Homo sapiens: one gene and its partner. The protein of the gene in region 1 interacts with the protein of each later gene in a pairwise test. Each region holds a gene or a part of one and is shown on either strand. Other genes may lie near its edges.

What was found.
Region 2: the proteins of ZDHHC4 (region 1) and DRD2 interact in a two-hybrid assay, tested with the Homo sapiens proteins (one large-scale study listed by BioGRID and IntAct).

What each region holds. Positions count from the first base shown.
Region 1 is NC_000007.14:6,575,999-6,580,380, reverse strand, and holds the start of ZDHHC4 (palmitoyltransferase ZDHHC4), read right to left. Parts: upstream 2,928-4,382; 5' UTR 2,883-2,927; exon of another isoform or gene 2,661-2,882; intron 2,504-2,660; exon of another isoform or gene 2,409-2,503; intron 1,881-2,408; exon of another isoform or gene 1,816-1,880; 5' UTR 1,718-1,815; coding exon of another isoform or gene 1,661-1,717; exon of another isoform or gene 1,635-1,660; intron 1-1,634. UniProt on the Homo sapiens protein: Palmitoyltransferase that catalyzes the addition of palmitate onto protein substrates including the D(2) dopamine receptor DRD2, GSK3B or MAVS.
Region 2 is NC_000011.10:113,423,113-113,426,924, forward strand, and holds part of DRD2 (D(2) dopamine receptor), read right to left. Parts: intron 1,571-3,812; 5' UTR 1,540-1,570; coding exon 1,255-1,539; coding exon of another isoform or gene 1,251-1,254; intron 1-1,250. UniProt on the Homo sapiens protein: Dopamine receptor whose activity is mediated by G proteins which inhibit adenylyl cyclase. Positively regulates postnatal regression of retinal hyaloid vessels via suppression of VEGFR2/KDR activity, downstream of OPN5.

The DNA of each region.
Region 1 (4,382 bases):
CACACATAACAGAGGCCTGCTGCCTCTCAGTGGGGCCTCCAAAATGGTCCTGAGCTCCCTCAATCAAGATAAAAATTCTGGGCCAGGTGCAGTGGCTCATGCCTGTAATCCCAGCACTCTGGGAAGCAGAGGTGGGTGGATCGCTTGAGCTCAGGAGTTCGAGACCAGCCTGGGCAACATAGTGAGGCCCTGTCTCAATTTAATAAAATAAAAAATAAAAAAAGAAAGATAAACTTTTTTTTTTTGAGACAGAGTTTCACTCTTGTTACCCAGGTTGCAGTGCGGTGGCGTGATCTTGGCTCACTGCAACCTCCGCCTCCCAGGTTCAAGCAATTCTCCTGCCTCAGCCTCCTGAGTAGCTGGGATTATAGGCACGCACCCCATGCCTGGCTAATTTTTGTATTTTTAGTAGAGATGAGGTTTCACCATGTTGGCCAGGCTGGTCTCGAACTCTTGAACTCAGGTGATCCACCTGCCTCGGCCTCCCAAAGTGCTGGGAGTACAGGCGTGAGCCACTGCACCTGCCCAAGATAAAAACTTTGAATCTAACACCCTAAGACTGTGGCCTGCCTTTGAAGCATCTCCAACTTGCAAATCCAAAATAAACCAAGAAAGAACATGCATCCTCCTTCCTTGCCCCCAGGCATGAATCATTCTTTTACTTCCTTAAATATTCACAAAGATACAAGATGTGTCCCCAAAGAATCTGCTGACAATGCCTTGAGAACAAGCATCTCCTAGAGGCAGTCAGGAGCCCTGCACCCAGAATCAGGCATCCTGTCCTAAGAAGCATCCCTCCAGGACACTGGCCACAACCATCAGGAATTACCCTCTGGAACCAGAGTCAACACACAGGCCTGCGTTAAAATACTGGATACTGAGGCCGAGCGTGGTGGCTCATGCCTGTAATCCCAACACTTTGGCATGTCGAGGCAGGCGGATCACGAGGTCAGGAGTTCGAGACCAGTCTGGCCAACATGGTGTAATCCCCATCTATACTAAAAACACAAAAATTAACCGGGCGTGGTGGCACATGCCTGTAATCCCAGCGACTCAGGGGGTGGAGGCAGGAGAATCTCTTGAACCCAGGAAGCGGAGGTTGCAGTGAGCCGAGATCGCGCCACTGCACTCCAGCCTGGGCAACAGAGCGAGACTCCGTTTCAAAAAAAAAAAAAGAAAAGACACTGGATACTGGAACTCTTTTCCATAGTGTAGCGGTTTAAGAAAAAAAAAGAAGAAAAAAAAGGTACTGGAATTGGCCGGCCGTAGTGGCTCGTGCCTGTACTCCCAGCACTTTGGAAGGCTGAGGTGGGAGGATCACTTGAACCCAGGAGTTCAAGACCAGCCTGGGCAACAAAGCGAGACCCCCATCTCTACAAAAAATACAAAAATTAGCCAAGTGTGGTTGCGCATGCCTGTGGAGGCTGAGGCGGGAGGATTGCTTGAGCACAGGAGTTCAAGCCTGGGCGACAGCATGAGACCCTGTCTCAAAAACAAACCAAAAAAGATACCGGAACTGGTCACTTTTGACCTTAGCAGATAAGATTCTGGGCTGTAATGCCAAGTGAGATAACCAAACAAGAAGCTATTCATGACATGATAGGTGAGAGTAAACAAACAGCAGCAATTCTCACGGGGTGATTCAGGGTACCCAGCCTACATTTCTCTTGGTTGGGTAATTTTCAGCCGGCAGCTCTGGCATTCCTCTTCCCAACATTCACAGATAATTCAAACAGCAGCTCCTCTTGGGCAGCAGTGTGTGCCTGGCATGACCAGTAGCTGCCGGACATGGTTCTTCCAGGAGCCTGGATCTGGCTGCAGAGACAGATCAATTCAACACCCACATAAGACGACAAGAGTTGCAGTCAAAGGCAGAATACCTGTGGAAAAGGATTTGGAAGTAGGGGATTTTCAGCACCCCCAGCATGAATGGGTAAGACTTTGGGAGAAATGGCCCAGACTAAGTTGCTTAGGCCTGCTCCCAAATCTTTGGGAGGCCCAGGCAGGAGGATAGCTTGAGGTTAAGAGTTCGAGACCAGCCTGGGCAACACAGTGAGATCACTGTCCCTACATAAAAATTTAAAAATCAGTGGGGCGTGGTGGCCCGCGCCTGTGGTCCCAGCTACTTGGGAGGCTGAGGTGGAAGGATGGCTTGAGCCCAGGAGGTCGAGGCTGCAGTGAGCTGTGATCGTGCCACTGCCTTCCAGCCTGGGCCATAGAGCTGGACCCCATCTCTAAAAACAATAAAAGAGGCCGGGCGCGGTGGCTCACGCCTATAATCCCAGCACTTTGGGAGGCCGAGGCGGGTAGAACACCTGAGGTCAGGAGTTCGAGACCAGCCTGACCAACATGGTGAAATCCGTCTCTACTAAATACAAAAAAAATTAGCTGGGCGTGATGGCGCATGCCTGTAATCCAAGCTACTGGGGAGGCTGAGGCAGAATTGCTTGAATCCGGGAGGCGGAGGGTGCAGTAAGCCGAGATCGCGCCACTGCACTACAGCCTGGGAAACAAGAGCGAAACCCCGTCTCAAAATACAATAATAATAAAGACTTTGTGAGAAACAGCTAGTTGGGAAGAAATAAGCCAAGTCGGTAGCCTTGGGTCTCTCCCCGCCACTCCCCATTAGGGCCTCCCGAAGCCACCCCCATCCAAGGCACCTCCTGGGCGGGCCTGGTCGGAGATTTCCCTGGGGGCTGGAGCCCTGGTAGGGGGACGTGGAGTGCAGCAGGCTCGGAGGGGACACCGGGGCCGCCCCGGACTCGGGCGAGGTGGGGGTGGGACGGCGGCCCTACACACAAGGGGAAAGGGAGGGTCAGAGGAGGAGACTGACGGTCCTGGGACAGCCCAAGCTTCCCACAGCCCCGCGGAGGCGGCCTTACCGCCAGCCGCTGGGCTCCGGCGCCTCCCGGGCGCGATACGAGACTTCCTGCGGGCTCGTGACATCAGCACGGCGCCCCTGAGGGGCTGACTTCCGGCGGAAGTGTGCGAGGGCCGCCGCGGGTTGCGGGGCTGGAGTAACAGTGACCTCCCCGGCGCCCTCGCAGCCAGCCTGGGGACCTCCGTGGCCGGGTGTAACCGCTGGGAAGTGCGATTTTATTTTATTTTATTTTATTTTATTTTATTTTATTTTATTTTATTTTATTTTATTTTATTTATTTTATTTTATTTATTTTATTTTATTTATTTTATTTTATTTATTTTATTTTATTTATTTTATTTTATTTTATTTTATTTTATTTTATTTTATTTTATTTATTTTATTTTATGTATTACCTATTTTCTTATTTACTTATGTATTCGTTCATTCATTCAGAAACAGCCTCGCTCTGTCGCCCAAGCCGGAGTGCAATGGCGCTATCCTAGCACACTACAACCTCCAACTCCTGGGCTCAAGCAATGCCTCCTGCCTCAGCCTCCCAAGTAGCTGGGACCACAGGTGCATGCCACCACACCCGCCTAATTTTTTTTTTTTTTTTTTTTTTTTTGTAGAGACGGGTGTCTCACTATGTTGCCCAAGCTGATCTCGAACTCCCGGGCTCAAGTGATCCTCCCACCTCGGCCTCCCAGAGTGTTGAGATTACAGGCGTGAGTCCCTGCACTGGGCTGGAAGTGGGATTTTAGAGCAGTATTGCCAGGAGACTTACAGGAGGACCGACCTGGGCCTGGTGGGGGCGATCATTCTGGGGCTGTGACAGGGACTAAGCTGCCCTGCGGCCTGCACAGAGACCAGTCATGTCCCTGCTCAGAGCCCAGCAGGGGGATCCAGGTGGCCCAGGGCAGTCACACTTAGGGGGCTCTCAGACTATGTCTGTGTGGTGGACAGAGTTTGCTTTCAGCCACCCACACTGTTGAGATCTAGCAGAACATTTCCAGCATCTTCCGTTGCAGAAGCGGGCAGAAAGCACAATGTGTACCCATCAGTCAGATTCCGCTCCATGTGTGTCCTTGCTCCTGATGACAAGGACATGTTGCTCTGTACAGCCCTAAATATCCTCGGGGCAGTGACAAATACTTGACCACAAACGTTGAGGATAAAAGGGAAGGGTGTTTGATGCTAGGCAGGCTTGGGGTAACAAGAGCTGCTTCCAAACATAGCCCTGAGAAGGCCCTGTGGGGTGTCCTTTGCTCTGACCATCTCTGAATCAGCTGAGGCCAGGGTCTATTCCTGATGCCTCTGAAGACCTGAGCCAGGCCTGTCCTCCTTTGAGGGGAAATGTCTGATCTCCAAACACTGGCCTTAAAGCTCTTCTCTTTTCCTGTCTCTTTGCTACCTACGTCAGCTTCTTGATGCGTTTTCTTTTCCTTTTTATGAAACTCCTTACCAACAGGATGCCTTCTCCTGTGTACATTGTATCCAAGGTCTTCATAAATTTATGGAC
Region 2 (3,812 bases), on another chromosome or scaffold:
TGATCCCTAAATGCTCCCACATCTGCTCGCTGGCTCTGAAGGTGTCTTCCTGGAGAATAATATCTGCTTTGGGATTTCTCCATCAGCATTTCTCCCTGTGACCTGGGTGAAGAAAGGCAACTTCTCCAAAGCTTCTATTTCCTATTTTGTTTTTGTTTTAATTTAATTTTATTTTTTTTTTGAGACAGAGTCTTGCTCTGTCGCCCAGGCTGGAGTGCAATGGTATGATCTCAGCTCACTGCAACCTCTGCCTCCCAGATTCAAGCAATTCTCCTGCCTCAGCCTCCCAAGTATCTGGGATTACAGGCATATGCCACCACACCTGGCTAATTGTTGCATTTTTAGTAGAGATGGGGTTTCACCATGTTGGCCAGGCTGGTCTTGAACTCCTGGCCTCGTGATCTGCCTGCCTCGGCCTCCCAAAGTGCTAGGATTACAGGCGTGAGCCACCGTGCTCGGCCTGTTTCCTATTTTGTAAAGTGAGAAGAGTAGCATGGACTCCCAGGGTTACCAAGAGTATTCACTGGGTCTGTGTCAGCAATGCACCAGGCACAGTGTCTAGACTGTGCTGCCTACTCCCCATTTTGAGGTGCAGAGCTGGGCCAAGAAATGAGTGACTACACAATTCTTCCTAACAAAAGGGCTACAGCACAGTCCATGGCAGCCTCTACCTGCAGGTCCTGGACAGGGCCCCAGGATAAGCTGTGGGAAGGAGAGGGGATATGGGGAGCATAAAGCAGCAGACCCATTTCTGAAGTGGGGAGATGGGAGTGAAGGTTTCAGGGGCCTGGGAGCATAAACATGCCCCTCCTTGGGGATCCTTGCCGGTTACTCCTATTTCCAATATGACCTAAGGAACTAACTCTGAGGCCAGAATTCCAGCTTGGACTTGCCAGCCGTGTGATGCTGCAGCAGTTACTTAACATCTCTGACCACCTGGTTTATCAACTGCAAAATGGTGGCAATAATGCCAGCCTCTAAGCTGCTGTGAGGGTTATATAGGAAAATGCTATATTTAAAGTCCCTACGTGAGGCCCAGCACTTAGTAAGCACTTTACAAATGGTAGTTGGGATTATTAAGGAAACAATCTACCCATTTCGTAAGGAGAAAAAGTAAGCCCAGAGTGAAGGAAAAACCACCTGGGGAAGCACCAGGAAACTCATTGGTAAAAGCCAGTGGGGAGCTAGAGTCCCCAGTGTCCAGTGCAGGGCCCTGCTGGAGAAAGTGCTGGAGCAAGCAGGGGGCCCACCTACCTCCAGGTAGACAACCCAGGGCATGACCAGTGTGGCGACGAGGAGGTCGGCCACTGCGAGGCTGACGATCAGGTAGTTGGTGGTGGTCTGCAGCGCCTTCTCGCGGGACACAGCCATGCACACCAGCACGTTGCCGAAGACGATGACAGCGATGAGCAGGGTGAGCAGTGTGGCATAGTAGTTGTAGTGGGGTCTGTCCGCCTTCCCGTCTGACCCGTTGAAGGGCCGGCTCCAGTTCTGCCTCTCCAGATCATCATCATACCAGGACAGATTCAGTGGATCCATCAGGGCGGTGGAGCCACTGGGTGGCCAGGCTCTGGCCAGGAAAAATGGACACAAGGTGTCAGTGAGAGGGCCTCTTGCAGAGGTCTCCAGGAAGAAGACCAACTCCTGGCATTTAATAATGAGAATTTTCCAACTCGGGATTTTAAGGTTTACGGCTAAGAATTTTCTAAAAATGTTGGGCCTTCTGCCACTCTTTTGCTAGCAAGTTTTTACAGCTGGTAGGACAAATGAGCAAACACAATTTTTTAAAAATGCATAATAAGATGAGCTTGAACAGAGCTGATCCATCATTTATTTATTCATTCAACAAACACTTCTTAAGCACGACCCATGCACCACACACTTCAGTTAACCAGGCTTGCTACCTTCTAGTCATCGAAACAGAAATGGGTATTCATTCATTCTTGATTCTATAAATATTTATTAAGCATTGTTCTATATAGTTCTAGAAATATAGGCAGGAACAAAATATACATGGTTCTGTAGCTCACATTCTAGGAGAAACAACAGCCAATTAATCAAGCAATTACATCTAAGGGTGATAGGGAGTAGGAAATGGAACAGGGAGAGAGATACATAACCTAGTTCAGGTATTCAGGGAAGGCTTTCTAGAGGAAGTGATGTTCAACAGACAAACAACTGAAGGATGTGTAGGAATTAGCCAGGTAAAGAACTAGGAGTCAGCAGAAGGTCTAGACATTGGAAGCAGTATATGCAAAGCACAGAGGTAGAGAGGTAGACAGCAGGTGGAGGGCCTCAAAGAGATTCTGGATAGCTGATGCAGAGGGACCTGGCAAGGGTTGAGTCTGGGGAGGTTGCAATAGGCAAGATCATAGAGGGCCTTAAAAGTCATGCTAGGAGTTTATACATGATCCTAAGGGCAGCAGGAACCACATGATCAGATTCGCCTTTCGAATAGGTGATTCTGACAGCACTGTGGAGAACGGAGAGGAGGGGCCCAGAGTGGAAGCGGGACACCAACTGGGAGGCTGTAGCAGGAATCCAGGTAAGAGATGATGAGGTTTGGCAGGATGCAGGGAGTGAAAGCCCTGCAGAATGGGCATCTCATCCCACAGAAGGGAAAGACTTCCTGAAGTGGGTATCATCTGGGATGAAGTAGAAGGAGGACTTAGCCTGCTAAATGAGAGGGGTGGGGGGATGTTCCAGACAGACAATATGACATGGTATCAAATCATCAAACAGCAAACAATTCTGTTTGGCCAAAAATGTAGGGTATGGCAGTAACGTTGAGGATAATTAAACTGCAGGGACATTTACAGGCCAGATTGTGTCTTGTCAGCTGGAGAGTCCCTGAGAGGTTGGGCCCAGAGACATGACCCTATTGGACTGGTGTTCTAGAAAGTGTATGGTGTAGAAGAGAGCTCAGAGGAGAGTGATGTTTTGGCTGTAATTTAGGTTAGAAATTGTGGTCATCTGAACGAAGATAGTGGAAACGAGGATGGAGAGACCTGTTCAGAATTAGGAGCTAAACTGCAAGTCAATTTCATGGTCCTTGGTCCTTGGATAGGTGTGGGGCAAAAGTGGGTATGGGACAAGCAGGGAGATAAGGAGTTGAGGGTAATGCTAGGATTTCTGCGTGGGGCTCTGGGAGGCTGGTGTCGCATATTCACAGAGAAAAGGGACCAGAGGGGCTCAGGAGCAGACTTGGGAGGCATCAGGAGTTGATGAACTTGACAGCCGGAGTTTTGGTTGTGACTGAAGCATAATGCATGGATAATATAGTTGGCTTTTCAGCTAACAAAAGTCTTCCTCTTTTACAGAATAGAATTAAACTTATCAGCATTCCAAGGTGTTTCATACAAAGCACATGACTTCCAGGTACTTTGCTACTGCAAATTGAAAACCACCAATTGATGCCATTTGGGATGAATGTGGTGCCATGTCCAATCAATGAACAGGGCACACCTCCAGCAATGGGTCAGAGAGGATGGTGGAAGAGGGTCTGCCCAATCTCCACACTCTCATCCCTGTCTGACACACCCACTCTTCCAGCTTTAGTAGAAGAATATGGATCATGTCCTACCAACCACCATCACTCTGGAGCCTCGGGGAAAAGCAAAGTGCCTAATTCCATGTGGGGTGACATGGAATGCCACCACGCAGCAAATCTTCCTGTTCTAAGGTAATGAAGCATATGTCATATTGATGCTGTATTCTGCAAAACCAACTGAGCCCTCTTCCCATTTGGAGCCCACAGCGGGAGGCCTGCATGTATGTATTGATCAGGTGCCTGGGGCTGCTTCTGACATTCA